Regions from separate parts of the Homo sapiens genome. Here all the other regions are reported to be linked to region 1. The links are microRNA targets in miRTarBase. Many come from high-throughput screens and were not tested one by one. Region 1 holds a microRNA gene; each other region holds the end of a gene's coding sequence.

Region 1 (10,706 bases):
CGGCAGTCAGCATCCCCGGCAGGTCCCTCCCCGCGCATCGTCCACTCGCTAGCACTTGACATTACCCCAAACATATTCAACTAGCTATTTTTGGTGTCAGCGTTAATAATATGGGTAATGTAAGTCCCTGCTTTCTTGAAACAAGTGTCTGGGGAAGGGTGGGTCCCAAATCAAACCCATCTGCCCTGCCGAAGTGGGAGTTTTACGCTGAGTGTCTGTGGGTACACAGTGAGCGTATCACAGAGCAGGATCGCCCCAGAGGCAGGGGCTCAGGGTCCCAGCAACCTCAGACACTCACCTCCAGCTCTTTCTCGTCAAAGTAGCGCAGCCACTCCAGCGGGGCCACCTCGTTGAAGCCATCCAGGAAGGCTTTGGTCTGCTCTTCCACGCCTCGGGTGAAACGCCAGTCAGTCAGCAGCCTGAGACCAAAGAGCAGCCATGGGTGGAGTCTGAGACCCACTGCTCAGGGGTGGCTCCCGGCCAGGCCGCGTGGCCGTTACCGCGCAGGACCACCAGATCAGCAGAGCCCACTTCGCACACCCAGACCCAGCCTGCTGGAGGACCTAGAGTGAGGCCCTGAAAACCTCACAGTGACCTGCAGACACCGGAGTCTTTGAAATCATCCTCACCACCACCTCCTCCTGCTCCTGCCCCCAGCGCCGACTGAACCTCAGACGTATGGAAGCGTGGAGATAAAGACTAAAGCAAGAGGCCTGAGGAACAGGCACGGAGAACGGGCACACGTGAGACGGTGGGTCTAGGCACACAGGCCACAGAGATCCTTTCGGCCCGGAGAAAGATGCAGATGTCTCAGCTTGATGCCACTTCAAAGAAATTCCACGCTGCAGGCTTGAAGTCTCCCACATGGCGAAAAAGCACAGCTGGGAGTCGGTAACTAAGGACCTCGGCTTTGGTTCCCCCAGCTCGCGCCATCACATGACCGCCCACCAGCAGCCACCATCAAGGCAAATGCAAATGGCATCCACAGTGACCGATGGGCCACAGGTGGGGGCCCATCTTTCTCTGCAACCCACTAGATCTCCACGCCACCCCTGGAGCGGAGCCCCCGGCGCCTGAGACTCACATGATGTACTCTTCCTTGTTCTCCTCTGTGACCCGGATGCTCTCGCCGCCCTCCTTCAGCTCGTGGGTCGTCACCTTGCCCAGTATCTCCATGTCCTGGATGAAGTACAGCTCCAGGCCACATTCTTCCAGGTTGTTCTCTCTGGGGGCACAGGAGACCAAGTGGGGAGATGTCTACCGTGTCAGGGTCTTTCCTGGATCCTGCTCTGTTGCCCGTGGGACACCAAGGGCCCACAGGTGGCCTAGAATCCTGAACAGTGACAGGGGACAGCTCCTTGACTCAAGGAGAAGGTTCTAGAACTGTCCCCAGGGAACCCAGAGGACATTCCTCTCCACAAGCTCTTATAGAGGCTGGAAAAGAGCTCAGGGGCCACACTGGCAGACAAAATAAAGGCCATCAGTACCTGCTTCCCACCCAGAGACGTCCCTCCTATCAGCGCGGTGGGGCAAGGGGGCAGGGAACTCACTTGATCCAGACAATGGAGTTGTAGAACTCAGGGTCAATGGACTCCAGGTCTTTCAGGGTTGGTCTCTTATTGAGCATCCGCTTGTAGAAAGGGAGGGTGAAGCCCGTGTCGATGAACTTTCCATGGTACAGCGCCTGGGAAGGAAGAGGCACAGCACAGAGGTTTGGCCTTCCCTGGGCACTGCCAAGACCAGCTCTCAGATGCTCGGTATCAAACTCTGCTACCGCTACCCGCCTTCCTTCCCTGACAGAACTACAGCAGCAGCTGCCTCGGACGCAGCGGGAGGGCCTCAGGAGTAAACAACGCCTTTATCCTGACTTGTACCTACAGAGGGACTCCCACCCTGCCCTGCAGACCGCAAGGACTGGGCAGAGCCAGCTGGTGCGGGAACCCACGTCCGGGCCCGCATCTGCCCCGCACGCTGGCCGGCTGGCTCCTGGCCTAGCAAAGGTCTGCCCCACGCTCACAGAAAAGGCTTGCTCTGAACAGCTGCAGGTGGCAGCCCTGATTCACTGGCGCTCAGGGTGGGTGGCAAAGGCAGCCAAAAATAATGCAGACACCGCCGACAGCGAGAGCTGGCGGCCAATGGTGAGTAATAGTCTAGGGTTTTACCGGTCTGTCCTGCTGGCTGCTGGGCCAGGCGGGTCTCTAGACCTGGGAAGAATGTGCCCATTTCCAGAGCCCAGCACCTTGGCCAAGAACTCCTCGACGATGGGAAGGGCCGGCCATATTTAGTCACAGGCTCATGGGGCGCTTGGGTCCTCCTAAGAGGGGAGCCGGGTGGGACACTCAGGAAGGCAGGGGAAGAAGCGAAGGAAAGGAGAATTGAAACATCTCCAGCTATGCATGTGGCTCCCGCGCTGTGCCTCCCACGGGCTCCGCTTCTCAATCCGGGTTCTCCACGCTCCCAGGACCCTCAACGGGGCACGTGGCAGGACCTCCCTTTCCATATTCACATTGTGTCCCTCTTTCCAGTTAAATACAGACGCTGGGACGCCCCTCCCCAGAACTGGCTCACTTTCTGACAGATGTCCCTACACCCTGCACCAGCCAGTCTACTGTTCACCAGGAGGCAGCGTGGCGTGAACGGCAGCGCCCATGGACTGGCGCGCCCTCTCTGGGCTCTACCCTTCGCCCCCATAGAGCTGGTAACCTAAAAATGTAAAAAGCTGGAGATAGTTCTGGAGAAACCAGAGCTTTCTCAGTGGCTGCCCTGTAGGTACTGAAGAGTTTCCATGTTGCTTTGCATAGGACTTGTCAAGAGGGGGCCCAGGGTCTCTGGGCCACAGACTTTACGTTTTGTTCTACACTAGTGTTGATTCCAAATGCCCTTCCAGAAGGCTTAGTGTCTCAGTGGGACATTCCCAAATGCCGTGACAGTGTCACCTCCCAGAGACAGGCAGCAGGTGGGCAGCTATGGTTTCACCTGGCCCTGTCATCCCAAGGCCCTCAACAGAGCACATATTTAATGTTCAGTAAAGTCTGTGGCCCAGCGACCCTGGGCTCCCTCTTGACAAGTCCTGTACAAAGCAACATGGAAACTCTTCACTACCTACAGGGCAGCCACTGAGAAAGCTCTGGTTTCTCCAGAACTCTCTCTAGCTTCTTGCATTTTTAGGTTACGAGCTCTATGGGGGCAAAGGGTGGAGCCCCGAGAGGGTGAGCCAGTCCACGGGGGCTGCCGTTCACGCCACGCTGCCTCCTGGTGAACAGGCCCAGGGCCTCCTCCAATGCTGCCCCTTCCTGGAGGTCTCAGAGAAAGAGCAGATTCCCCTGGTGCCCCTGGCACACTTCACCAGGAGAGGGAAGAGGAGGGAGAGGAGGAGGGAACTAGGCAGACCCCTGGGGCCCCCTTACCATGGCGATGAATCTGCCTATAAAGCGAAAGTAGGTGAGGTGGTCCGGGTTGATGGAGGAGGCGGGGTTGATCTGCAGGCAGTAATTGTTCTTTCCGGCATATTCAAATAAACAATACATAGGGTTGAGCACCTCATGAGACAGGAGGAAAAACCACTCTCTGTGAGGGAAGAGACAGAAAAGACAAGAATAATGGGTCCCTTCGTGCACATCTGCACAGGAGCTGTGTCTCTTCACCATCGTGTCTCAGGTTAGTATGGGGACACGTGTCCCAGGGAGTCGAGCCCTGTGACAAGCACCCGGGCTAACCTATATGAACAGCTGGTCAGTGAACAGGGCAGGCTCAGACCTACAGTGAACCAGGGCGGCAACTGCATTTGAGGATGATATTTGGGAAAACGTGTGATTGTCGGCTCCCAGGTGATGTGTTCCAAGACTTTACATCACAATATCCAGAGCTTCTAATGGTAAAGGGGGTCCTTGTACCCTGGGTCACCATGCTCAGTTGCCTAGGCTGTGCACTGCACAAGGGCACGATGCATGTTTATTACAATAATTTTTCTGCAAAGGTTCTGTTTGAATAGTAACTACCCTGTTTCCACTCTACCTGGGCGGGCAACATAACGTAAATACACAGCAACACATTTCCAACCCCGATCCATGACAATGTAATCCATGCTGCCTTCAGATGAGAAACCTCATGCCCACCAGCTATGCAACACTCTTGCACTTTGCCCTCCCTTCACCCCCAGACCCCAACACCATCCCCGTTCCCACACTTCCACGCATTCATCTGAACCAACACCCGTGCCCTGGGTGCGAGCCTCAGGCATGAATTCAGAGTCCTTTTGGGCTTGAGCTAAACCAGCAAGGGGATGTCCCAAGGGGGCCAGTCCCCAGCTGCTGGGCTGTTTGTGGCTGGGCAGACGAGGAGTCCGTCGACGCAGAGGGTGCCCCGGTATCCTGTCCGTGGTTCTACCCTGTGGTAGAACAGCATGACGTAACCTACCATAGGGTAAAACCACTGGCAGGACACAGAGAGAGACACACACAGGGCGCGGCCACACCAGAAGCCCACCAAGCAGAGCCTGGAGAGGAGGTCACCACGGAAAAAAGGAACATCCATCCACGGGGCCAGCGCAGAAGGCAACGCCACCACCGAACAGAGGACCAGAAGCAAGTTAACCCAACACCAAGCGGGAAGACATGCCCACACCGGGAGAGGTCTCGAGCGGAGAGGTCGCTGCGGGCCACAGCGCTCTCTCTCTCTGCCGGGGCCCTTCTGCCCTGCTGTCCAAGGCAGCATTTCCCAGAGGGCCTGTTAACTTTTATGGGTGGACCAGGGTGAAGGCAAGACAATGCTTTGGACTCTTTTTAGGGTGACATAAGCCGTTACAGTTTTACTGACCCCAGGCATGTGACATGCAGTTGAGCCCTGCTCAAGGCCCTGTGGATCGTGACACAGCTTATCCACACGGGGACACCTGACTTCACCTGCCCTGGCTGCCTTAAGAGGAGGGGATCCCAGGGTCAACTCTAATGGATGACCACATGGCCCCTATATTCAACTGCCCAGATGCTGCTGGCCTGGTTGTTAAAGTACAGAAACATGACACATTGGTAGATAACAGAGCCATTGTACTGAGCTCTCGCCCCTCCCAGGAGTCCTCCGTCGCCTCATGACCCAGTAACTAAAGGCTTAATGTCCAGCCCAGTGGGGCACCCCAGGCCCCTGTTCCAGGCCCAATGGACTGGCCACATGGATTCACGTATTTTGTTTTTTTGTTTGTTTTGTTTTTGAGATGGAGTTTCGCTCTTGTTGCCCAGGATGGAGTGCAATGGCACGATCTCGGCTCACTGCAACCTCCTGCCTCCCAGGTTCAAGCGATTCTCCCGCCTCAGCCTCCCCAGGAGCTGGGATTACAGGCATGCACCACCACGCCCAGCTAATTGTGTATTTTTAATAGAGACGGGGTTTCTCCATGTTGGTCAGGCTGGTCTCGAACCCCCGACCTCAGGTGATCCACCTGCCTCAGCCTCCCAAAGTGCTGGGATTATAGGCGTGAGCCACCGCGCCTGGCGGGTTCACGTATTTTGAATGCCACACTGTGCCCATTCCTGAAGATGCATGAGAGCTTTGGGAGGGAATGTGAGCAGGGGGCAGGCAGCTTTCTGGCCATTGATGCTGTAGCCTGGGGAAGCGGGGTACAGGGCAGCCTTCCGGGGCACTCAAGCTCACCTGGCGATGCCCCCATAGTCCAGGCCCTCCTCGCCACGCATGATGATGTAGAGCCGGCGGCGCAGGTCATAGGGTTTCATGTTCATGATCTGGGAAGACAGAGCATCGGGCCAGCCTGCCACTCTCCCTTCCACAGCAGGCAGGGGCGGGAGGGACAGGGGACTCTAAGGCCCAATATCCAGCAGACACAGTCACCAAGACTCACGCCCTGGAAAGTCTGCAGTGTGGGTTTAACAGGCCACGCGATAGGAGATGGGGTGCTGGGAGGAGGGCGTCGGCCTGCCACTGGTTTCGGGCACCATGATCTAACCTGTTGGAAGGAATCTTCGAAAAGCGTCTGCCTGGAAACGCTGATCTTCACGTGGCTAGGTAGGGCATTTGACTGAAAAAAAAAAAAGAAAAGAACTTTAAATCGAGCCTCAAGTGGTCATCTGTTCTCCTGTCTGTATGAACAGGCATTCCCCAGCCTGCTGGGCCAGGAGGCAATAGCATGTGCCCTAGGAATGAAAACTAGCTTCCTAGAGACAGCCAGCTCCGGGTTAGACAAGTGTCTTGCGCCCGCCTAAGACACAAACATTCCGATACCTGCTGCTGTGCCGGGAACTCACACTGAAATAACTCAATAACCCCAACTGCCACGGGAGCCCCAGTACCAGAACTCACATGGCAGAGGAAACGGAACTGGTGATACTTCCACCGAAAACTGCGGTCATAAGCACCAGGGGAACCTTGCTTCGTCCTAGGAAGAGCAAAGATGTTCAGGGGTTCATGCGATTTCTCAGAAAATGAACAATTTGTCTTTGTCAGCCCTAAGGAAAGCTGGTGCTATGTTAATTTAAAGATTAGTAATGTAAGGTGAGGAAGTGACTGTCATTAAGATCCTTGAAGAATAAAAAAGAAAATCTAGAAATAAAGCCAGACTTCTTGCTTTTAGAGAAATAACTCTAGTGTCATTCGGAATAAACAGGATAGTCCCTTCCTCCCCATCCCATCTTATTTATTTGTTTGTTCGTTTTCTAGAGACGGGGTCTTGCTCTGTCACCCAGGCTGCAGTGCAGTGGTGTGATCATGGCTCACTGCGGCCTCGAATTCCTGGTCTTAAGCGATCCTCCCGCTTTAGCTTTCCAAGTAGCTAGGACTACAGGAGTGTGCTACCACACCGAGCTAATTTTAAATGTATTATTATTTTTTAGAAACAGGGACTCACTCTGTCACCTGAGCTGGAGTGCAGTGGTGCCATCATAGCTCACTGCAGCCTCAAACTCCTGAGCTCAAGGGATCCTCCCACCTCAGCCTCCTATGTAGCTGGGACTACAGGCATGCACCACCACATCCAGCTAATTTTTAATTTTTTTTTGTAGAGATGGGGTCTTGCCATTTTTCTCAGCCTGGTTAATCTTTTTTATTGTTGTGGAGACACGGTCTCGCTATGTTGTCCAGGCTGGTCTCAAACTCCTGGGCTCAAGCTATCCTCCCATCCCCTTTAATATGACATCAACATTGGCCACTAGAGGGCAGTAAGGGCAGTAGAACGCACCACAGGGGCCACCCAAAGTGGGCCTCCCAGAGCCAGAACAAGGACAGCCTGGGCCTCGGCTCCTGACACTGCTGCTACCTGCACAAAGTCCTTACCCCGACTCAAACCCCGGGCGAGGATCCTTAAAGGTGGTGGTGCGGGTATTGTGGTCCACAAAGTATCGCACCCCCTCGCTGGTGTATTTCATCTCCCATCCTGGGGGCAGAGCTGGTTCCTGGATCATCCTGGAAACACGGGAAGAAAAGGGTGAAGGGCTGGCCCCACCTTCTGGACCTTGGTGGTTGGAGGCTGGGTCCTCAAAGTGTGGCTTTGTCTCTGCAGAGCCCATGAGGGACTTTGAGGACATGCACCCAAGAAGCATGACCCAAGTCGTGAGAACAGTTCTGCAGCACGGAGAGGTCACTTATTATCTCATGGCCAAAAACCCAGCCCTGCATGGATGGCATTGGACTGAGCAGCCACCAGCAATCCTGAGGCACCCTGTGCCCCAGCACAGCTTCACTTGGGGGTGTTGGGAGACCAGGATGCCCTCAACCTTTTTGCAATCCAATTATCAGCAGCCAGCACAATCAGTATGGAGACCAGCAACACCCGCCAGCCGGGCCGCCCTCCATCCACCAGGAAGGTCTATTTAAGAAACCCCTTTTAAGCTCTCATCAGGCCAACAGTGTATCTGTACGGTGAGAGTCTCAAGACACTTGTGTGTGGCTAAAGGTCCCTGACATCAGCCCTCTGGGACGATGCAGTCCAAAGCCACCTGCCCAGTGCTGGAGCTGCACAGAGACCCAGCCCAGCCCGGCCCCCCTCTCAGCCCAAGTCCTTACCCCTGGGTCCGGGGATCCTCCCACTGGGTCGTGCGAGTGTTATGGTTCACGTAATACACCCGTCCATTGTCCTGTCTCTTCTCTGCCACATGAGAAGAAAGAAAGAACATCAGATTCAAACACGGAGAGCCGGTGTCCTTTCCCTGAGGTTCCCACCTCCTGGGTGCTGGGTCTGAGTTTATCTCCCTGTTGTCAGCCTGTTAGAGAAGAACCAGCCAAAGCCAAGCTCACTCACACTTGTCACTGGGAAAGGGACAAAGAGGGTCCTTCCTTGTTGGTGGTGGGGGGCGGGGGTGACATACTTCCAACTCGAGATGAAGCACTTCTTTGGTTGATTGGTCGGAGGGAGGGGGTGGTGTGGCCACCCAGAGGGAGCAGCACAGCTCAAACCAGAGGCATAATTGCTCCCAGCTGTGTGCAGCATGGAAGCCGGGCAGTCCCTAACCCGCCAGGCCCCCCACCCAAGTCCCTCACAGCTGATCCCTGGTCCTGGGACCCTCTGCACTGCATGCAGCTAACCTGGGCGCCTCTGTCCTACAGGGCGTGGTCCTTATGGAGTGGCTGCATTTCCCTCGCACCTCTCTGATCAGTGCTCTGCACCCTGCGCCCCTGTACCCTCCAAGTTCTCCCTCTTCTCCCACTTACAGGCTAAGTCTTGTTCTAAAACTCTCATACCCTGGCACGCCTCTTTCTTGCTTATAAGCAAATAAATGATATCTGGGGCTGAGGACACTTACACTGCCCAGCCTCTTCTTAGACTTGTATCTTTTTTTTCTTTTTTATATAAAGACAGGGTCTCGCTATGTTGTCCTGGCTGGTCTCGAACTCCTGGCCTCAAGTGATCCTCCCGCCTCAGCCTCCCAAAGTACTGGGATTACAGGCAATAAGCCACCGTGCCTGGCCTGCCTATCCTGTTCTTAGGCCTAAGTATGTGCTTTGAGACAGGGGAATGTTCATGGAGTGGGGCTGGGGAACAAATACACTTTTCCTCTGCTCTGAACAATCTCTGTTCTCTTGCCCTTTACTGATATACTGATAAGGGCTCTGGGGTCCCCAAGGGAGGAGTCTGTGCTCCAGGGGCAGACCCAACCCTAGCTGGTGATTCTGGACCTTGAGAGGGATTGAAAGGGATAACCTCTCAGCTCCAGGTAGACAGGAGAAAAAAAAAACAAAAAACTAGGGGGTAAAGCTCTTGGCTCAAAAGAGGTCACCTTTCCCAGGAAGTTCCTGAGCCTTCAAATCTGCTTCTCTCCTGAAAACAAATGATGCTAATGGCTCTCCTTTTACAAGACAGGGCAGCATTAAAGAAACAAAAATAATCAGTTCCAGAAGCTACAGGGAACCAGAAAGCTGAAAAAGGAGCAGAACAGGGAAGTGCAACAACCCCCTCCTGACTCCAAGACTCGAGCTGCAGTGCTCCCAACACCAGACCAAGGCCTCAGTCTCCCTCCCACTCTCTGCCTTACCTGGTATCTATGACTCGACTGAAATTTTACAAACAGACATTATTTGTCAATCATACCTCAGTAAAGCTGGAAAAACAAATAAATAAAATAAAAATAAAGACAGGCTGGGCACGGTGGATCACGCCTGTAATCCCAGCACTTTGGGAGGCTGAGGCAGGAGGATCGCTCGAGCCCAGGAGTTCGAGACCAGCCTGGGCAACACAGCGAGACTTCATCTCTATTTTGTAAATAAAAAATAAATAAAAGAAAGCCAAAGGAAAGAAAGAACAGGAGGTGCCCAGAGCTGTTACAGAGCTACCACCACCTCAGAACACACAGAAGGAAGGCTTCCCAAGAGGTTTCCAGGGGAGGGGCTGCTCCCAGCCCCGAAGCTACTGCTTTGAACTAGATCCTCCACGTCTGCCCTGTTAAGGGCCAAAGCCAAGGCTAACCACAGGGCCAGGGGGATCTGTCCAGCGGGCTTGAGGCCTGTGTCGTCATTTCTGGCACTGCTGCTGTGTGGAGGCCTCCCAAGGCCGGCTGGCTGCCTCGCGGCATTCAGTTTCAGTTGGGGGCTGGGAAAGACCCCAGGAACACCTGGCTCGACCTCATTTTAGGACAAAGGGACTCAGACATATTCAGCCACAGGCCCAGGGTCAGGGCTGCCGAGGGCAGATGTGGATCTGAACCCGAGGTGTCCTGAGTCCCACAGCAGTGTGTGGGGAAGATGCGGGGTCTCTCCTGGGGCAGCAGAGAGGGACACCAGCAGGCTGGGTTAGCAAGCTGCCGATCACTCTCACTTGGTCTGGCTGTTCTTCCTGTTCATTCTCGGTGAGCCCTGGGGAGCCGGCCCCAGCCACAGCCCTGGGGCAGCCAACACAGATCCCCAAGGATCTGAGATTCAGAAGGAGCCCTGGCCTTTAGCCAGAATGTTCTTCCTCTTAATTCTAGACTATGACAGTTTTGTGGGTTTTTTTCTGATCGTTCATTAACAGTATCGACTCTGACCACGGCTCCTCCATTTCTATCTCAAATATTTCCACACTTAGCATTCGAGAGCTGTTTTCAAGTCTCCATCAGCTGTGCTTACCTGGTGACCATCACTCAGCAGAACTGGCATGAAAACCCACTTGACTGGGCTACATCACCTGCCTCTACAGAGCCTGAAATACACTAGAAGTCCCCGGCTTCTATGCCACTGGCTACTAAACAGCAGTACAGATTCTTGTTTAATCTGACGCATTTTCCCCTGCC
Region 2 (10,706 bases), not on the chromosome of region 1:
CCCAGATTCAAGCGATTCTTCTGCCTCAGCCTCCCAAGTAGCTGGGATTACAGGTGTGCGCCACCACGCCCAGCTAATTTTGTATTTTTAGTAGAGATGGGGTTTCTCCATGTTGGTCAGGCTGGTCTCGAACTTCCGACCTCAGGTGATCCGCCCACCTCGGCCTCCCAAAGTGCTGGGATTACAGGCAAGAGCCACTGCATCCAGCTTAGGCTATCTTACTCCAGCCTAAACAGCAATTTTCTATCATAAGGTCTGTACTAATGAAAACAGAATCACCCAAGGCTGCTGTTTGTTCTGTCTGTGCTGCCATTGTCCGCATTTTGCTGAGGAGGAAACGGAACTGCACTTTTGAGTGAGTGGCCCAGAGCCTTCTAGAATGAGAGTGCGTTGGAAGCCAGATATGTGGCGATTGTGTCGCCAGCTGTTACTCAGGTTTTCTCAAGAAGGAGGAGCAACTTTGGCAGTTTTGCTTCAGTTCTCTCTAGCCCTCTGTGTAATCGCCCCTTTTTCTTTATTTCAGCACAAACACAGAGCAGTCTAAAGCAACCGAGCACTGAGAAAAATGAACTCTGCCCAAAGAATGTCCCAAAGAGAGAGTACAGCGTGAAAGAAATCCTAAAATTGGACTCCAACCCCTCCAAAGGAAAGGACCTCTACCGTTCTAACATTTCACCCCTCACATCAGAAAAGGACCTCGATGACTTTAGAAGACGTGGGAGCCCCGAAATGCCCTTCTACCCTCGGGTCGTTTACCCCATCCGGGCCCCTCTGCCAGAAGACTTTTTGAAAGCTTCCCTGGCCTACGGGATCGAGAGACCCACGTACATCACTCGCTCCCCCATTCCATCCTCCACCACTCCAAGCCCCTCTGCAAGAAGCAGCCCCGACCAAAGCCTCAAGAGCTCCAGCCCTCACAGCAGCCCTGGGAATACGGTGTCCCCTGTGGGCCCCGGCTCTCAAGAGCACCGGGACTCCTACGCTTACTTGAACGCGTCCTACGGCACGGAAGGTTTGGGCTCCTACCCTGGCTACGCACCCCTGCCCCACCTCCCGCCAGCTTTCATCCCCTCGTACAACGCTCACTACCCCAAGTTCCTCTTGCCCCCCTACGGCATGAATTGTAATGGCCTGAGCGCTGTGAGCAGCATGAATGGCATCAACAACTTTGGCCTCTTCCCGAGGCTGTGCCCTGTCTACAGCAATCTCCTCGGTGGGGGCAGCCTGCCCCACCCCATGCTCAACCCCACTTCTCTCCCGAGCTCGCTGCCCTCAGATGGAGCCCGGAGGTTGCTCCAGCCGGAGCATCCCAGGGAGGTGCTTGTCCCGGCGCCCCACAGTGCCTTCTCCTTTACCGGGGCCGCCGCCAGCATGAAGGACAAGGCCTGTAGCCCCACAAGCGGGTCTCCCACGGCGGGAACAGCCGCCACGGCAGAACATGTGGTGCAGCCCAAAGCTACCTCAGCAGCGATGGCAGCCCCCAGCAGCGACGAAGCCATGAATCTCATTAAAAACAAAAGAAACATGACCGGCTACAAGACCCTTCCCTACCCGCTGAAGAAGCAGAACGGCAAGATCAAGTACGAATGCAACGTTTGCGCCAAGACTTTCGGCCAGCTCTCCAATCTGAAGGTAGGCCTTGAGAGAGAGCAGTCCAAGGGGCTGTGAGTGCATGCTTGTGTTTGTATTTAGCTTGCTTTCCATGGGGTATCGATTGCATTTGCAGTAGTATGAGCCCCCGGTTGGGGATAGTGGGTATGGATTCCGCCTGGCTTTTGCCACTTCTAGCTCTTTGACTTTGGACAAGTGACTTCCCTTCTCCTGATTTTCTTCTGAATAATAAAAAAATTAGGGGTTTGGACTAGAAGATTAGGTGAAACTCCCTGCTAGCCTGTGATTTTTGTGCTTTTAAGAAAAACACCATTCTGAAAACATGAAGATTTCTTCTTTTTAAGACTGTCTTGATGCTTTTCTTAAGATATTTGCATCAACACTTGAGTCTTGGAGCAGAAATGTTAGGTCTCAGAGCCAGCTTGAGAGCAGAGCTAACACATGTGGCTTCTTCCCAGGTCCACCTGAGAGTGCACAGTGGAGAACGGCCTTTCAAATGTCAGACTTGCAACAAGGGCTTTACTCAGCTCGCCCACCTGCAGAAACACTACCTGGTACACACGGGAGAAAAGCCACATGAATGCCAGGTGCGCAGTATTTTCTGGGTAGACCTTCTGACCTTTGTAGAAAATGTCTGTGAGTCACCCTCCCATGTCCTATATAGCCCGTAGTTAAAGCCAACACCAGATTCTGCGTTGTCCCATCCTGGACTGATGGCACTATGGTCCTTCCCAGTACTTTGTATCTGCTGATGACTTGAGATGGCACAGCCAGCTTCCAGTGGGTGGGAAAATGGTAGGGGAAATAAACAGCCCCTCGTGTGCTGTGTGCCCACATCCCCCCGTTTGCTTAATACCACACTGGAGGTGCCACAAGGAGGCTTCTCACCTCCTAGGTTGCTGGGCGTTGGCCGGTAAGCCTGCCCCTCCCGTTGGCAACTCTTAATCTTCTGGCCTTCCTGTCTCCCTTCCCTGCTGTCTCTCTCCCCTACACTGTAGGTCTGCCACAAGAGATTTAGCAGCACCAGCAATCTCAAGACCCACCTGCGACTCCATTCTGGAGAGAAACCATACCAATGCAAGGTGTGCCCTGCCAAGTTCACCCAGTTTGTGCACCTGAAACTGCACAAGCGTCTGCACACCCGGGAGCGGCCCCACAAGTGCTCCCAGTGCCACAAGAACTACATCCATCTCTGTAGCCTCAAGGTTCACCTGAAAGGGAACTGCGCTGCGGCCCCGGCGCCTGGGCTGCCCTTGGAAGATCTGACCCGAATCAATGAAGAAATCGAGAAGTTTGACATCAGTGACAATGCTGACCGGCTCGAGGACGTGGAGGATGACATCAGTGTGATCTCTGTAGTGGAGAAGGAAATTCTGGCCGTGGTCAGAAAAGAGAAAGAAGAAACTGGCCTGAAAGTGTCTTTGCAAAGAAACATGGGGAATGGACTCCTCTCCTCAGGGTGCAGCCTTTATGAGTCATCAGATCTACCCCTCATGAAGTTGCCTCCCAGCAACCCACTACCTCTGGTACCTGTAAAGGTCAAACAAGAAACAGTTGAACCAATGGATCCTTAAGATTTTCAGAAAACACTTATTTTGTTTCTTAAGTTATGACTTGGTGAGTCAGGGTGCCTGTAGGAAGTGGCTTGTACATAATCCCAGCTCTGCAAAGCTCTCTCGACAGCAAATGGTTTCCCCTCACCTCTGGAATTAAAGAAGGAACTCCAAAGTTACTGAAATCTCAGGGCATGAACAAGGCAAAGGCCATATATATATATATATATATATCTGTATACATATTATATATACTTATTTACACCTGTGTCTATATATTTGCCCCTGTGTATTTTGAATATTTGTGTGGACATGTTTGCATAGCCTTCCCATTACTAAGACTATTACCTAGTCATAATTATTTTTTCAATGATAATCCTTCATAATTTATTATACAATTTATCATTCAGAAAGCAATAATTAAAAAAGTTTACAATGACTGGAAAGATTCCTTGTAATTTGAGTATAAATGTATTTTTGTCTTGTGGCCATTCTTTGTAGATAATTTCTGCACATCTGTATAAGTACCTAAGATTTAGTTAAACAAATATATGACTTCAGTCAACCTCTCTCTCTAATAATGGTTTGAAAATGAGGTTTGGGTAATTGCCAATGTTGGACAGTTGATGTGTTCATTCCTGGGATCCTATCATTTGAACAGCATTGTACATAACTTGGGGGTATGTGTGCAGGATTACCCAAGAATAACTTAAGTAGAAGAAACAAGAAAGGGAATCTTGTATATTTTTGTTGATAGTTCATGTTTTTCCCCCAGCCACAATTTTACCGGAAGGGTGACAGGAAGGCTTTACCAACCTGTCTCTCCCTCCAAAAGAGCAGAATCCTCCCACCGCCCTGCCCTCCCCACCGAGTCCTGTGGCCATTCAGAGCGGCCACATGACTTTTGCATCCATTGTATTATCAGAAAATGTGAAGAAGAAAAAAATGCCATGTTTTAAAACCACTGCGAAAATTTCCCCAAAGCATAGGTGGCTTTGTGTGTGTGCGATTTGGGGGCTTGAGTCTGGGTGGTGTTTTGTTGTTGGTTTTTGTTGCTTTTTTTTTTTTTTTTTTTTTAATGTCAAAATTGCACAAACATGGTGCTCTACCAGGAAGGATTCGAGGTAGATAGGCTCAGGCCACACTTTAAAAACAAACACACAAACAACAAAAAACGGGTATTCTAGTCATCTTGGGGTAAAAGCGGGTAATGAACATTCCTATCCCCAACACATCAATTGTATTTTTTCTGTAAAACTCAGATTTTCCTCAGTATTTGTGTTTTTACATTTTATGGTTAATTTAATGGAAGATGAAAGGGCATTGCAAAGTTGTTCAACAACAGTTACCTCATTGAGTGTGTCCAGTAGTGCAGGAAATGATGTCTTATCTAATGATTTGCTTCTCTAGAGGAGAAACCGAGTAAATGTGCTCCAGCAAGATAGACTTTGTGTTATTCTATCTTTTATTCTGCTAAGCCCAAAGATTACATGTTGGTGTTCAAAGTGTAGCAAAAAATGATGTATATTTATAAATCTATTTATACCACTATATCATATGTATATATATTTATAACCACTTAAATTGTGAGCCAAGCCATGTAAAAGATCTACTTTTTCTAAGGGCAAAAAAAAAAAAAAAAAAAAAAGAACACTCCTTTCTGAGACTTTGCTTAATACTTGGTGACCTCACAATCACGTCGGTATGATTGGGCACCCTTGCCTACTGTAAGAGACCCTAAAACCTTGGTGCAGTGGTGGGGACCACAAAACAACCAGGGAGGAAGAGATACATCATTTTTTAGTATTAAGGACCATCTAAGACAGCTCTATTTTTTTTTTGCCACTTTATGATTATGTGGTCACACCCAAGTCACAGAAATAAAAAACTGACTTTACCGCTGCAATTTTTCTGTTTTCCTCCTTACTAAATACTGATACATTACTCCAATCTATTTTATAATTATATTTGACATTTTGTTCACATCAACTAATGTTCACCTGTAGAAGAGAACAAATTTCGAATAATCCAGGGAAACCCAAGAGCCTTACTGGTCTTCTGTAACTTCCAAGACTGACAGCTTTTTATGTATCAGTGTTTGATAAACACAGTCCTTAACTGAAGGTAAACCAAAGCATCACGTTGACATTAGACCAAATACTTTTGATTCCCAACTACTCGTTTGTTCTTTTTCTCCTTTTGTGCTTTCCCATAGTGAGAATTTTTATAAAGACTTCTTGCTTCTCTCACCATCCATCCTTCTCTTTTCTGCCTCTTACATGTGAATGTTGAGCCCACAATCAACAGTGGTTTTATTTTTTCCTCTACTCAAAGTTAAAACTGACCAAAGTTACTGGCTTTTTACTTTGCTAGAACAACAAACTATCTTATGTTTACATACTGGTTTACAATGTTATTTATGTGCAAATTGTCAAAATGTAAATTAAATATAAATGTTCATGCTTTACCAAAATTTGTCTAGTGTCTTGAGTGAAGGGTCAGTGAGCGACATCTCCATACTGTACAGATGGCACCAGAACAAATTTTGAACACAATGCAATTTGTCTCTCCCCTGCCCCCACCCCTGTTCTTCTGCAGCACCCTCTGGGGTGCCCTGATCTCCCCCGGCTCCTTCCAGGAGTATATTTGTGCGTGATCTGACAGCATTGATTTGTCTCTCATAACTAAGATTTTTCTTTATGAACTATAAAAATGTTCTCTAAAGGAAGCATTTCAAGCATCAGCCAGTAAGTGGGAGACGATTTGTTTGCTTTGTGAACTTTTACATTTTATTTCGTCAATGGACATGGGGTGGTGAGCAGATAAGGAGGACTTGGATCACTTCCAGAAATGCCCTGCTAGCTTGTGCCAGTCTGTGTGCGTGTGTGGAGACTCAGCACACTTATGGGTGTGGGGCCCTGGGAAGCTGGGTCAGGGAACACTTTGCCCATTGGTGACAGCGGCTTCAGTAGCTTCCTCTGGGCAGGCCATGGGGAGTGCCCTACAACCCATGTTTACTCCTTCACATGTAAGCACGTTTGCTATTTGCTACTTGTCCTTTTTTTTTTTTTTCTTTTTTTTTTTTTTGAGACCAGTTTTTGCTCTGCCACCCAGGCTGGAATGCAGTGGAACGATGATGTCTTACTGCAGCCTTTATCTCCCAGGCTCAAGCCATCCTCCCACCTCATCCTCCCGAGTAGCTGGGACTACAGATGCGTGCCCCCAGGCCCAGCTAATTTTGTTTGTTTTTGGTAGAGACAGTCTCACTATGTTGCCCAGACTGGTCTCCAACTCCTAGACTCAAGCAATCCTCCTGCTTTGGCCTCCCGAAGTGCTGGTATTACATGCATGAGCCACCGCACCTAGCCTACTTGTGCATTTAAAAAGTTTCCAGAAAGCTGCTTTCCCAGAATCTGAGCGTTGTTAGTGTGAGAGCCAGGTATCTTGGTGGTATGGCCATGTGGCCCTATGTGATGGGAACAAGTCTATGTGCTTAGCCATTCACGCTCCAGAAACTAACCTGTGTCCAGAGAAAAGGCTCACATAAATTCGAGTCTCATTTGATAGATGTAAGTAGGAGATGCTTCTAGAAAAGTGATAGTTCATTCAGTGAAAAGAAAATCTAAAAGCCCTTTGCAAGTGGTTTTCATGCTTCCCATTTCATCTATTAGCAAATTTATGGTTTTATGCGCATGCTGACTGCATGTTAAGAAAATAATGCTCCTGCTTACATTTGGACACTCAAAACTGCCTGATGCTTTGTTTTTAATGTTTCTTCTTTAAATTCACTTAAACATCTGTGCCCAGAATTTGAAATTCTGCCAACATGTAACTGTGGAGTTAAGAAAACCAGAACCCTATTGTCATAAACGTGCCAAACGGCGCTGGTTATATTCCTAAATTCTACAGAACCATTGTGGTAATAATTTTTCAAAACAAAGCCCAATAGGATCCTGAGAGTAACAGCTAACTACCATAAATCATAGTTCTTTACTTGGCAAATCATTTCTTTCTTTTTTTTTCTTGAGAGTTATATATCTTGGGAACACTTATGGACTTAGCTGTTTAATGAAACATTACATAAAAAGATAATATTCACTAATGAGCCCAAGTCCACCCAGCCAAAGTCCATACTGTTGGATCAAGACTTCATCCAGCTGTTTGTAGGACAAAGTAAGACTGAAGAAGCCACCTTTTTCTGAGTTTACCTTCAACAAAATAAAAACTCTGTGCAGAAATGATGCATTTAATTCCCTACCATGAGGCAATATATAGAATATACAGCACCGTGGGAGTCTATAGGCACATTTCTAGATATTTTTTCCTTGGGGGAAATGAAATCAATTTAGGATCCGTAAGTTGGTATAAATGAGCTCATTCCTTCCTCTGTGTGTGTGTGTGTGTGTGTGTGTGTGTGAGAGAGAGAGAGAGAGAGAGAGAGAGAGAGAGAGAGAGAGAGAGATGCCTTCTCTAAAAGGAGATAATGAGAAAAGGCCAGAACAGAGGAATGAAAGTAATTAGAGGCACATGGCAGATAATTTCTAATGCAAAACCAGGCCTCCAGGATAATCTGGTCTAGAAAGGAAGGCTGTACCACAGAAGGCAGCAGCTGAAAGAATTGATGAACAGAAGAGTTAGATAGAATGTGATCATTGAACCAGTCCAGAAGGCACTTCTGTTTCCTTTCAGAGATCATGGAGTTCTTTGTCCATAACATGTCATTTCATTCTCAGCTTCTGGCCAGAAGAAATCAGATCATTATGAACAGTGGCCATCAAATCTACTTCTGGGTATGAAGTGGCTACAAGAAATGTTTTAGGATTGGTGGATAAGCTTCCCTAACATCATTTTTCAAGCTTCAAGTCCTCAGAACCCAAGTTCATTTGCTCAAAGTGCTGCTGACAGCTGCTCCTTAAATAAGTGAAAAGTGATTTTAATCTCAATACAGTCTTAATCGTGTAATTCAGGCAAAAATGCAGCAAGATTCCAAAAAGTTATTTTTAACTGAATTTATGCAAATAGTCACTCTCCCTTTCCCAGTTTTACAGCATACTATAAACTAACAAACCCTCTCCTAGTTTGCTCTTCCTTCCAGGTTTGACAAGTAATGAACCAGGGTTGGCTGTGTGCACTTTTCCTTCTCTCTGAATTTTCGATAGGTTTTATTCAGCATAAACATGAATGTAGTCATCTTGTGGTTTTCCCCTACCCCCGTCATAAAAGAAAGGAGAAATGACAGATAAATAGCAATGGCTAATCTTGGTAAGAAATTCTTCAATATGTTAACAAAGGGGGTTCTCATGGAATTGTGGCAAAGTTCCCCAACTTCAGGTGTCTTAAGGATTCACCTGTGGATGATGGCAACCAGCTCTTCCCCATTGTGGGTAAGGAGCAGAACAAAGGAAATGAAATTAAAGCGTTGCAGAGGGGACTTTGGTTTAAGTCACCAAGACGAACACCTACATTTAGGGTTTGTAACACAATGGATTCCTTCCCATGGGAGGGAGCAGTCCCCATCCTTGCAGGGCTTAGAGAGGAATCCGTGTGTTTGAAAGCACAGGATGAACAAGATGCTCTGGTGAGCTTTTCCTAGGTCTTTAGTGTTTCATGTTCTTTAATGTTCCTGAGGCTTCCTTGGAAATGCTGTGTATTTAGGCAGATCTGGAGAGCCCGTCTGATTCTGAGGAAGAGTCTATGATATCATGAAATTAATTTTGCTGTATATTCTGTAAAATATTTTAAGAGATATTCAATGTTTGAATTCCCAGGGCTTCTGGAAGGGTCTGAAATTGAAAATGAGGCATGGTGCCACTGTCACCTGCATTACATGTGGCACTCTGTAAAGCAACCTCCAGGCTAGCAGCCTTTCAGCGCAGTTATCACTTAAGAAGAGAAGGGACCATCTCTGTGTTCTCTCCACTCATCAGCACTATTTCCCTTGAGTACTGTTTCCTATCCACAGGCAAAGGAAATGAGACACACCGCAGTCCCCTTCCACATAACCCTATCTTGCCTCTCCAGTTTTTAGTACAAGCGACCTGACAGTGATTTGCTGTGAGATCAACCAACTGTGGATCATTAATGGGGTCACTTACTCTTTCTTCCATGGCTCTCAGGGCCAGAGTTTAAAAATACACCCAAGATGGGAACTGAGTTGATGAGCTCCTACCATCACGGAAAAAGCGGCATATCAGGAGTTTAGGGAGCTTGGTTCTAGTCCTGATTCAGCCCCTGGTTAAGCGTGTGCTCCCAAGAAAGTCCGGGAACCTCGCTGGGCCACAGTTTCCTGGTCCTTAAAAGGAAGGAGTCATTTCCTGGGTTGTCTTCCTGTTCTTTGGAAGATGTTCTTACATCTCCTAACATGCTCAGATTCCACTGTTTTCTCTTATTTCCTTTTGATTTGTTTTCCTTGGAACTCCGGTTGTTGCTATAGGCAGATATTTGTAATTTAGAGAGCAGATGTCGGAGAAAATGAAAATGAGGGGCAAGTCTGTATGGAAACAACTATTGTGGCTTCTTTTGGCAAAAGTGAGTGGGCTTGCAAAGGTCCTGCTAATTTGTAAGAACCATGAACTTTCCCCAGGAATTAATATGCTCATCTGAAAGGAATCAAGATTCTTTTAATGGACATAATGGCTTATGCTTAAATCAAACTTCTGCTTAAGTACCATGAATTCTAGGATGTTTAGTGGGTTTTTGTTTTTTTTCTTCGTCTTCTTTCTCTTTTCTTTTTTTTTTTTTTTTAAAGCAAAGGCCTACATGTAAGATGACTGAGAAAGATTTAAGCCCCTTGCCACAAAAAGGAAAGGGGGACAAAAATATGGGCAGCTAAAGAAAAGAATGAGAACCCAGTCAAGAGACCCTAAGAAGACGTTGAAAGGAAACGTTTCAGTTAGAAAGTAATCAAGGCCCTGATACTGTTTTAACGGCTCAAAGTTTAAAAAAGGGAATAAAGAAAAATTAAACTGAGAGAGGGAGGAGAGAGGGAAAGGTTAAGCCAAGACAGAAACTGTGAGCAGATAGATGTGAAAGGGGCTGAAAGTAAGTGAAAAGTGAAAAATTGCTTTATGAATAAACCGTTGAAAAATAGTGAGTGAAAAAGCAATTGTGCTTCCAGTTATTACTGAATCACAAGCTCGTGGAAGACAGAGGCTGACCCCAGCAGCAACTCCACACTAACCTACATCGCAGCAGTTGGTACACTGCAGTTCCTGTGGGCGGACACCGTTTTCTACTTGAGTGTTCAGTTTCATTGTGATTACCCTCCATCACCGTCGCATGTGGGCCATTTTACCGCCTTGAACACAAAAAACCTGACTTGGTCATCTCTCTAGCCTGCTGACACTCCAAAGCAGGTGATATCCTCCAGAGGACACACAGAGACCAAGGGGTAAGGGCGAGGGGAAGGCAAGCAAACCTGAGAGAAGGAGAAGCCTCTGCCTGCCCCTGCTTTTTCCTGAAAATGACAGTGTGATTTCACACTCAGTGCCCCTGGTCATTCCTGGAGGTGCGTTCCCACAGGGACATGGTATGGCCCGTTGG
Region 3 (10,706 bases), not on the chromosome of region 1:
TGCCAATAGAGTAGGTTAAAAAAATGATAGTGCATTGCTTAGAATTCCTTTTTAGTGAGATTGACCCCTTTGTCCAAACATTTGATATGCAGTTGTATTTCTGTTATGAGTCCTTCGTTCATGTCCTCAACCCATATAGAAAATGGAGCCTAAATGTTATTCTTATCAGTTTGCATGAGCACTTGAGATAGTGAGGGTATTTTTATCTGTGTGTCTCTTTCCTTTTTAGGTTGCATGAGCCCGAGAAGAATGCCAGAGAAATAACACAGGTACAGTCCTTGGTGAGATGCCCTTCCTGGGAAACTCCGTGGCGTGGTTGCTTCACATCAACCGGAATTGCAGATCTGGTTCTAAATTAAGACTCCTTGTGGGGTGGAGGGTGGAGGATCTTACACTCCTAGCTTTCCCCATGTCCTGTGCATATTCCTTCTCTCTACTGCAGCCAAGAGTGGCTGTTGCAGCCTCATGACTCAGTGCGACCCATTGCACAACTCCCCAGGGGCACCATTCACAATCCGTCCTATGAAAATGGTGCCCTGGAGTCAGGCTGCAGCTCCCTTAGTGTGGATCGTGCCTTCCCATCTCTCTACATTTGCCCAGGCCCATCCCTCTACCAGGAGCGCCACTCCCAGCTCACTGCCCGCTCCTCACAGCCAGGCTTTTCTATGCTGGAACTGCAAAGCCCAGCCTGCCAGGGCCTCTCCCACCTTTGCTGATGGAAAGACCCCATGTCATTAATTACCTCACACAAGGGCACACTCACTCAAGCTGGAGGTTTCTGGTCAGCATTGCTGAGATGATTTTGCAGCAACACGGTTTCTGAGAAACCTAGCCCTGCTTATCACCGGCTGATGCTGTCAGACCTTGAAGGCAGAGGGCTGCTCAGCATCTTGTAACAAGACAGGCCCTGCTCTGAACCCGGAACGAGAGCGCGCCAGCTGTCCTTGACATTTCCAAGGCAGTTGTCATCTTTTTAGATGTAATCTGTTGAAGGAGTCGGGCTGGTGAAAGGCGCAGCATTTGTAGACCAAAATGCCTTGGCCCTGCCCTTGTGACCCATGGGGTCCCCCCGCAGCCCCGGACATGAGCTCGAGTTGTAATTAAGAAAAAACAATTTCCAGTCATGAGCGAGGGAGATCTTCTCCCCCATCATTTTACTTCTGGACTTCCTCCTGGAATCTTCTGGGGGAAAAAAATGATGGTGAGAAGAATGGGTCATGGAAACCTCTACGAAATTCACAGCAGAGACTTACTGGGCACCCACTGTGTGCCACGCACTGGACAGTGAGCCAGACAGTCACAGCCCAGCTGGCAGAGTGCCTGCGATTCCAGTGCCAGGTGCCAGCCCTGGCCAGGGAGGGAGTTGCACGCTGTCAACACGGATTTCCCAGACAGAAGCAAATGAGAGCACGCAGGGCTCAGGACAGAGGAGCTGTGTGCTAAGAGCACAGTCGTAGAGTCCAACACACTTTGGTTCTTTGCCAGCCGGACAACTTTGTCCACTTTATTGAACCTCCCTTGGTCTCAGTGTCTTCAGCCGTAAAGTGGAATAGATAATCCTTCCCAAGCAGGGTTGTGGTAAGAGTGGATGGGGTGATCTATGTGATTGTGTGCTGCTTGTAAGCCCTGAGAACTGAAATCAGCCATTACCGTGCACCAACTAGGAGGTGTGCCGGTTGGTGGTAGCTTTATTCTGTTCTATCACGCAGGGGCCAGTCACAGAGGGAGCAAAGTTTATCATTCATGATGGGCGCTTTTGAGGCGGCAGTGGCAGGTTGATAGGATTAGCACATGGGAGGTATCCAAGTTTGCTAAGTGGTTAATGATTGCGAACATTTATTGAAGACAGATGCTCAATAGGTACCAGGCTCTGTTCTAAACGCTTTACCTGGATAATCTCATTCCATCCTCACAGCAACCCTGGCAGTAGACACTATTATCATCCCCTCTTTACAGATGGAGAAACTGAGGCCCAGAGAGGTTAAGTGAATTGCTCAAAATCCCTGAGCTAGAACCAGGATTCAAACCCAGGCTTTCTGACTCCAGAACGTTTCCCGCTTCACTAACTGGCGATCTCGTTCTTATACTGCCCCTGTTCTCTGTCTCCCTGTCCCCAGCTTTGCCCTGAGTGAAGGTGAAATTATTGCCATCCACTCATATATTCATTCAATATGGATCAGACTTCTTATGTGCCAGCCTTGGTTTCTGAATCATAACAAATGCCCAGTGAATATTTGTGGAATAAACGCATACATTAATGAATGTCCCCACACGTACCACCATCAGCAGCACCTCCTCAGGCCCCCAAACAGACATGGTCCTGGGTAGCGGGCCCTGTGATGGAAAACAAACATGGGCTGAGGAAGCACAAAGAAGGAACATGGACCCTGCCAGGAGAGGGGAGAGCCAGGGAGGGTCTTAGTATGAGCCATGCTTCATCTGAAATTTACATGGTGGATTGGGATTTGTTACAAGGAGAAGCAGGACAGACACCCTCGAGGGATGAACATGAGAAATGGGTGAAGACTGCAGGTGGTTCAGGCTAGGAGGAGGCAGGAACGGGAGGAGGTGACACTGAGGCGGGGCTGTGAGGAGACTGCACTGTGCGGGTCAGAAAGACCCTTCAGGCAGGGTGAGGAGGAGGGCAGATGGGAAGGGGCAAGGCTGGAGGCAAGTAACGTTGGCAAGAGATGAGGGGAACATGACTTATGGCTGAGCCAGTGTGGGCCGAGAGGACACAGAAGCATCCAGACTTGGTATTCAGTTTGAGTGAGTGGGCCAGGGGCTATAGAATGACCTTCTCATGACTTTCTCTTTGGGTATCTTAAATCCAGGACACAAATGATATCACATATGCAGACCTGAACCTGCCCAAGGGGAAGAAGCCTGCTCCCCAGGCTGCGGAGCCCAACAACCACACGGAGTATGCCAGCATTCAGACCAGCCCGCAGCCCGCGTCGGAGGACACCCTCACCTATGCTGACCTGGACATGGTCCACCTCAACCGGACCCCCAAGCAGCCGGCCCCCAAGCCTGAGCCGTCCTTCTCAGAGTACGCCAGCGTCCAGGTCCCGAGGAAGTGAATGGGACCGTGGTTTGCTCTAGCACCCATCTCTACGCGCTTTCTTGTCCCACAGGGAGCCGCCGTGATGAGCACAGCCAACCCAGTTCCCGGAGGGCTGGGGCGGTGCAGGCTCTGGGACCCAGGGGCCAGGGTGGCTCTTCTCTCCCCACCCCTCCTTGGCTCTCCAGCACTTCCTGGGCAGCCACGGCCCCCTCCCCCCACATTGCCACATACCTGGAGGCTGACGTTGCCAAACCAGCCAGGGAACCAACCTGGGAAGTGGCCAGAACTGCCTGGGGTCCAAGAACTCTTGTGCCTCCGTCCATCACCATGTGGGTTTTGAAGACCCTCGACTGCCTCCCCGATGCTCCGAAGCCTGATCTTCCAGGGTGGGGAGGAGAAAATCCCACCTCCCCTGACCTCCACCACCTCCACCACCACCACCACCACCACCACCACCACTACCACCACCACCCAACTGGGGCTAGAGTGGGGAAGATTTCCCCTTTAGATCAAACTGCCCCTTCCATGGAAAAGCTGGAAAAAAACTCTGGAACCCATATCCAGGCTTGGTGAGGTTGCTGCCAACAGTCCTGGCCTCCCCCATCCCTAGGCTAAAGAGCCATGAGTCCTGGAGGAGGAGAGGACCCCTCCCAAAGGACTGGAGACAAAACCCTCTGCTTCCTTGGGTCCCTCCAAGACTCCCTGGGGCCCAACTGTGTTGCTCCACCCGGACCCATCTCTCCCTTCTAGACCTGAGCTTGCCCCTCCAGCTAGCACTAAGCAACATCTCGCTGTGGACGCCTGTAAATTACTGAGAAATGTGAAACGTGCAATCTTGAAACTGAGGTGTTAGAAAACTTGATCTGTGGTGTTTTGTTTTGTTTTTTTTCTTAAAACAACAGCAACGTGATCTTGGCTGTCTGTCATGTGTTGAAGTCCATGGTTGGGTCTTGTGAAGTCTGAGGTTTAACAGTTTGTTGTCCTGGAGGGATTTTCTTACAGCGAAGACTTGAGTTCCTCCAAGTCCCAGAACCCCAAGAATGGGCAAGAAGGATCAGGTCAGCCACTCCCTGGAGACACAGCCTTCTGGCTGGGACTGACTTGGCCATGTTCTCAGCTGAGCCACGCGGCTGGTAGTGCAGCCTTCTGTGACCCCGCTGTGGTAAGTCCAGCCTGCCCAGGGCTGCTGAGGGCTGCCTCTTGACAGTGCAGTCTTATCGAGACCCAATGCCTCAGTCTGCTCATCCGTAAAGTGGGGATAGTGAAGATGACACCCCTCCCCACCACCTCTCATAAGCACTTTAGGAACACACAGAGGGTAGGGATAGTGGCCCTGGCCGTCTATCCTACCCCTTTAGTGACCGCCCCCATCCCGGCTTTCTGAGCTGATCCTTGAAGAAGAAATCTTCCATTTCTGCTCTCAAACCCTACTGGGATCAAACTGGAATAAATTGAAGACAGCCAGGGGGATGGTGCAGCTGTGAAGCTCGGGCTGATTCCCCCTCTGTCCCAGAAGGTTGGCCAGAGGGTGTGACCCAGTTACCCTTTAACCCCCACCCTTCCAGTCGGGTGTGAGGGCCTGACCGGGCCCAGGGCAAGCAGATGTCGCAAGCCCTATTTATTCAGTCTTCACTATAACTCTTAGAGTTGAGACGCTAATGTTCATGACTCCTGGCCTTGGGATGCCCAAGGGATTTCTGGCTCAGGCTGTAAAAGTAGCTGAGCCATCCTGCCCATTCCTGGAGGTCCTACAGGTGAAACTGCAGGAGCTCAGCATAGACCCAGCTCTCTGGGGGATGGTCACCTGGTGATTTCAATGATGGCATCCAGGAATTAGCTGAGCCAACAGACCATGTGGACAGCTTTGGCCAGAGCTCCCGTGTGGCATCTGGGAGCCACAGTGACCCAGCCACCTGGCTCAGGCTAGTTCCAAATTCCAAAAGATTGGCTTGTAAACCTTCGTCTCCCTCTCTTTTACCCAGAGACAGCACATACGTGTGCACACGCATGCACACACACATTCAGTATTTTAAAAGAATGTTTTCTTGGTGCCATTTTCATTTTATTTTATTTTTTAATTCTTGGAGGGGGAAATAAGGGAATAAGGCCAAGGAAGATGTATAGCTTTAGCTTTAGCCTGGCAACCTGGAGAATCCACATACCTTGTGTATTGAACCCCAGGAAAAGGAAGAGGTCGAACCAACCCTGCGGAAGGAGCATGGTTTCAGGAGTTTATTTTAAGACTGCTGGGAAGGAAACAGGCCCCATTTTGTATATAGTTGCAACTTAAACTTTTTGGCTTGCAAAATATTTTTGTAATAAAGATTTCTGGGTAATAATGAGTCCTTCCGGTGTTCAGTATTCTTGTCTTTGTGAGTGCGTCCCGGGGCCGCCTCGGGGCCTGCCTGCCCTCCTGCCAAAGCCTGGAAGAGGATTGAATGGACCCCAGGGTTTGGAAACAACCTACAGCATTTGAGCCCCTCACGTAGGTTTTAGAGACGTACAATTTTTGTTTGCCCTGGCTCAGAAGGAGCCGGTGTAAGGTTGAGATAAAATTCCATATAGACAACTGAGTTTGGATCTCGGCTCTGCTGCTTTGTAGCTGTGGGAGTTCAAACAGCACCTCTTTGAGACTTGGGCCCCGCGTCGGCACAATGGGGCAGGAATAGTCCCTGCCAGGGTGACTGTGTGGATTCAAGGAGGTTGGAAGCACTGAGCCCACGCTTGGCACTGGGTAGGCCATCACTGAGGCTTGTGTCTTTCCTTCCTGCCCTGACCCTGCATAGCTGAGTCTCGTGGCCTCTCACCACTGATGGGATCTCGGACACCCGGCTCACCCTCCTCCTGGGGCCTCACTTTCCTTCCCCACCAAATGCAGACATCTAATGCTTGTCCTGTAATATCCTTGCCAGATGACTGATGTCAAGTGCTGGTTTATAGTGGGTGCTCAATAAATGTTAGTTTCCTTTCTATCCCTCCATTAGATCATTAATGATATTAGTGCTAATTATGTAATAAAGTTAAGGCATAAATATGTTAATATTTAGTGGTTACTATGTGTCAACGCTTTACCTTGATGAATTCTTAAACCTTGTGACTCAAGGGCAATTATGTTACTGACTGTAGATGACACAGAGAGAGGGTGCAACTTACACAGGTTCACACAGCTAATGAGTGATGTTACTGAGCCTCCAGTTCCAACTGGATAACTGTAGTGCCTGATGCTTAGCCACTGGGTTAATAATCAATACGTCATGTATGGACCACTGACTGCAAAATTAACCACCATGATAGCTAATAACAGCTATGCCAAGTGTGCTGCCGCGTGCTTCACAGTTAGAACTCATTTCCTTCTCCCAGCTACATGAGGGAGGAACTCTTGTTCTCTGTGCTTTGCAGATAAGGAAACTGAGACACGGAGAAGTCATTTCTCCAATGTCCCATGGCAGAGCAGTTTGAAGCCAGGGAATCTGACTCTTCTCCCCCACACTGTACTTACTGCCTCATTTAATTCTCATGACTATCAGATCGCTGTGGTTGTGCCCATTTTGCAAAGAAGGAAAGATGAGGTTCTGGAAGTGCATGTGACATGACCAATCTCACGCAGAGTCTTTAGTCAAGTTGAGACTTGAACTCAGATCCACAAGCCCACTGGGGATCATCCCTACACCCTTGGCCTGGTCCATGTGATCAGAGACCACCTGAACCAAGGAGCCTTCTGCGGGGCTCAGAGAGGTCACCCTCCTCTCAGGCCAGGACCTTGGCTGTAACAGACAGCTCAGCAGTTTCCTGGCCCGTGGCCTGAGTTCAGCTCTCCGCCTCCCTCCGGGAGCAACCCATGAAATATGTGCACTGCTTGCAGGAATGGGGTGTTCAAGGCATGAATCCAGGCCGAGTGGGTGGGGAAATGCCTTCCATTCTCTGGGAAGGTGGGGGATGATGGACTGCGTGTCCAGACAAGGAGACTTGGTGGGTGTATTTCATGCAGCACCTGGGCCTTGCTTCTCCACGGCCAAATCTCCAGGGCTGGAGGCTGGCAGGCGAAATGAAAGTTGATGGGAGCTAAGTGGCCCTTTTCCAGCCCTCCAGGAAATCAGTCAAGCATTTGGCATTTATCGGACACCTCCTTGGGGTTCCTCCTGGTGCAAAGGAGAATGCTAAGACTCCCTTCCTCCATGAGGACCAGGCCAGAGTCCTCTGCCTTCCACCTGAAGCCCCTGCCCATTTTACGTGATAATCAGGAAAATCTCCACTGGCCCCCAACCCCAAGATTTGAATGCCCAACTGTAAAAGCCCATGTGTCTTCTAGCACATTTCCAACAGCCAAGTTTTGACGAAGGTTTATTTAATTTTGGCATAAACACATACTACATATTAGACACTCTCCTAAACTCTGGACAAGTATTTATTAAAATTAATTCACTTTATTCTCTTAACAAACCTATGAGTTAGGTACTATGATTATCCCCCACTTAATAAAGAAATGGAAACACAGAGAGATTAAGCATTTTGCTCCAAGGTCGCCATCCGGGAAGTGACGCCACTGTGGGTATGGTCTAGTCCAGCACTGAATGGGCATATGATGGGGGCTGGGGCTGATAGTGAGAAAGTGGGGGGCATAGATAATGTTCAGGATACACTGGACACTGTCAGTAGCCAGAAACACCACATCTCACCACCAAAGTGTCAGAACATCAGGGTGATATGGCTGCCTGGCTGCTCACCAGCCAGCCGAGGCACCCTTGAGCCTGCCACTGCTGGGATCCCCGACACCACCCCGCTTCACCACCCTCTTCACTGTGCCTGACCAGGCTCTTGGTTTCTTTTCTGAATACAAGATTATGACATTGAAGATGCTTTTTAAGAAGACGTGCTCCTGATGTTCAAAAACAGGCAAAACCTTGGCAACAGAGATCAGAAGAGTGGCTGCCCTTGGAGGGAGGACCAGGAGAAGCCTGGGGTGGCACATGCTCTACGTCTTCCTGAGTCGTGGTTATCTGGGAGGTTGCATATGTAAAAACCTTTCCAGCTGCACATTTAAGATGGGTGCATTTCCCTGTATATAAGTTATGCCTTGAATTTTTTAAAAGATAGATGCCCAGCCCTGTCCCCCTCAACCTTTGATGCCTGCCCCTCCCCACCCCCGGCCAATCTATTTTTTAAAGTTAGTGTCAACACCTTATCTTCGGTAGCTGAACCCAGCCCAGGGCCTGGCCCCAGTGAGGGGCCCAAGGAGTGTCGCTGAGTTCATTGGAAAGATGAACATCCCCGTGATCAAAACAGCACAGAAAACAGTGAAAGATGCTAAACAGCACAAAGATTAAGGATGGCTACAAGCATAAGCCATTATCTGTTATCACTTCATCTCCTGAGATTCCTTCCATCACTTTTCCTCCTCCTCCACCCATTGGAATCGGATACAACTGCACCCCAGAGTCCTTGCCCTGTGACCTTGGGCAAAGAGATTCACCACTGGGCCTCTGCTTTGTCACCTGTGAAACAGGGATAGTAGCAGCCTTCACCTCCGGGGGTTCTTGCGAGAGTTCGATGAGAAAGTAGATTTAAGACTCTTTGCAGCAGTGTGGTGCAGACAGCAGTCGACATATGCACAGAAACACACACACATTCACACCCACACACTCACATATCAGGCCAGGTTATTAGAGCATCGCTGCAATGGTGGGTCTTCTGACGAATAATTTTATCAAGTCCCTCTCTTTCTCATTAGCCTGAGATAGGTCTCTCTTACCAACCTTTCGGGTATGGGGTGCAACACCCCAGCTTGGTTTTCGGAGTCCTCTGCCTTATACCACCACCTGACCTGTTTAAGAACATTTCCTGCTCCTCCCCAGCCCCTGCTGGACTCCTTGGCCAGGTTGATTTTCCTCTCCCAAGAAATACTATATAGCAACTCCTTTGACTTCCCTAGCCCCACCATGAGTCATTCCTCCAGTGACTTGGTGTCCTCTTGACCAGACATGAGCTCCCAAACCAGAACTTCACGCTCTACCTTTGGGATTCAGCCCCTAGGATAAGGGAGACTAAAGCCTACCATGTGCCACGCTGGACTCTGGACACTCGAATTCTTTACTTCATGGAACCTTCACATTCTTTACAAATGGAATGTCAATTTCACAGGGAAGAAAATTGAGGCTCAGAGAGGTGGAGAGGTAATAAGTTCAAGATCTTTCAACTAGTAATTATTTCTCAAGCTCCTACTGGAACCTGGCCCTGTGCAAAGTTCTGAGGACACAATGTGGACAAAAAATGGACCACACCCATATGAGCTCATATATGAGGGAACCAGAGCCACTGGCAATCCCAGTGCAGGGATGAGCGCTGCTGAGAAGGGCGTGACAAACATGACGTACAAGTGCAGAATTAACACACTAATGAGTGAGCCAGCAGTGGGGCAAGAGCTGGTTCCAAGAGTAAATGGGCACTTAGAGGCTTTGAAAAAGGAAGGTGAGAATAACATTTTCAAGTTAGAGATCAATCCGGTTAATGTCCCACAAGGCAATAAGGCCATATCTTTGGAGATATTTTTTTTCTGCCAGACAGAAGCCATTTGCACCCACCAGACAAAAGTCTACAAATTAGCCCCAATCTGGGCCTTAATCAAATAGGAAAGACAAACTCAGGTATATTCTTCTACAGAACTAACTAATCCTTCAGTGGGGCTTTTAAACCGTGCCCCAGTATGGCAACGAGATGAAGCACTGCCTTCTTTTGCCTTATTTCCAAATTTGAGATACTTTGTCTTATTAAAGGAAAGTATACTGGCTTCATTCAGCCTGCACAGGGCAGAAAAAGACTTCTTGAAGAGGAAATCCCTGAACTGAGATCTAAAAAATAAGTAACAAGAAGCCAGGTAAGTGCAAAAGAGCCAGTGCAAAGGAGTTCCAAGGAGCCAGTGCCTGGCAGAGGCCAGCCGTCCCTGTGTGCACTGGCCCCTACTGAGCTCTGCAGCCCGATTCACACCACTCTCTCCATCACTCCCTGCACTGGCAACACCAGCCTCCTGCCAGTTTCTAAAATGAACCACAGGACCCCGGCATGAGCTACTCCCTCTGCCTGCAACACTCCCTGGATCTTTCCTGCTTGTCCTCCAATCCAGAGGCTGGGCTAAGTTCCCTTGTCAAACACTTCCATAGTAACCATGTCCAGCCCTTCTTTGTAGCCCTCATCTCAATTTGTAATTATACATTGGCACTGTGATTACATGATTACCATCCTCTCCTCTACTGCCCCAGTTGCTGCCTCAGGGCAAGGAGGGTGTTGATTCACTCATCAGTGTAACTCCTATGCTAAGCCCATAGGAGGCACCCAGCAAATATTAGAGGGATGGGAGGATGGACGGAGTGATGAGAAGGAGGATGAGAGGATAGATGGATGGAAGAAGGGAGGCTGAATGGATGGCTGGATTGATGCAGGAGAGCACGGATGGGTGGATGGGTGGGAAGGAAGAAAGGAAGGGGGAGAGGGAGGGAAGAGAGCAAAGGGGGAGAAGGAAGAGCATAAAAGTCGGAGTCTGCTTGGCATTTTAGGAGAACTGAGAGTCCCTGGCTGGCAGGTTTGGAACTAGAAGCAAACCTCAGTACATCTGACTTTTCCCACTGAGTTTCTCTGCCTTTCATCA

What was found. The annotated mature microRNA hsa-miR-140-5p reads CAGUGGUUUUACCCUAUGGUAG and lies in region 1 at 4,413-4,434, opposite strand. An mRNA with a match to its seed (bases 2 to 7 or 8) in the 3' UTR can be bound and repressed. Matches are read on the target gene's strand: a 7mer-m8 pairs with bases 2 to 8, a 7mer-A1 pairs with bases 2 to 7 and ends in A, and an 8mer does both.
Region 2: miRTarBase lists PRDM1 as a target of hsa-miR-140-5p. Seed matches in the 3' UTR shown: 7mer-m8 at 4,124-4,130, 7mer-A1 at 4,709-4,715 and 7mer-m8 at 4,738-4,744.
Region 3: miRTarBase lists SIRPA as a target of hsa-miR-140-5p. Seed matches in the 3' UTR shown: 7mer-A1 at 3,522-3,528.

What each region holds. Positions count from the first base shown.
Region 1 is chr16:69,926,831-69,937,536 of GRCh38, reverse strand. MIR140 (microRNA 140) reads right to left here and starts at 4,456; the gene lies at 4,357-4,456. WWP2 (WW domain containing E3 ubiquitin protein ligase 2) reads right to left here. Exons shown (of 24, transcript NM_001270454.2): 12 at 8,008-8,089; 13 at 7,279-7,407; 14 at 6,310-6,385; 15 at 5,957-6,028; 16 at 5,647-5,735; 17 at 3,408-3,567; 18 at 1,551-1,684; 19 at 1,085-1,225; 20 at 299-419. RefSeq lists silencers at 3,685-3,875, 7,077-7,234.
Region 2 is chr6:106,104,302-106,115,007 of GRCh38, forward strand. PRDM1 (PR/SET domain 1) reads left to right here. Exons shown (of 7, transcript NM_001198.4): 5 at 524-1,632; 6 at 2,070-2,198; 7 at 2,610-5,637. The coding sequence ends at 3,185. Among named protein-coding and RNA genes, the nearest start is that of PRDM1, 23 kb to the left of the region's middle. RefSeq lists enhancers at 473-1,187, 1,188-1,901.
Region 3 is chr20:1,934,486-1,945,191 of GRCh38, forward strand. It overlaps SIRPA (signal regulatory protein alpha), which reads left to right. Exons shown (of 8, transcript NM_001040023.2): 7 at 230-269; 8 at 2,835-6,107. The coding sequence ends at 3,083. Among named protein-coding and RNA genes, the nearest start is that of PDYN-AS1, 7.4 kb to the right of the region's middle. RefSeq lists enhancers at 2,583-3,137, 3,138-3,690, 5,204-5,705, 5,706-6,205.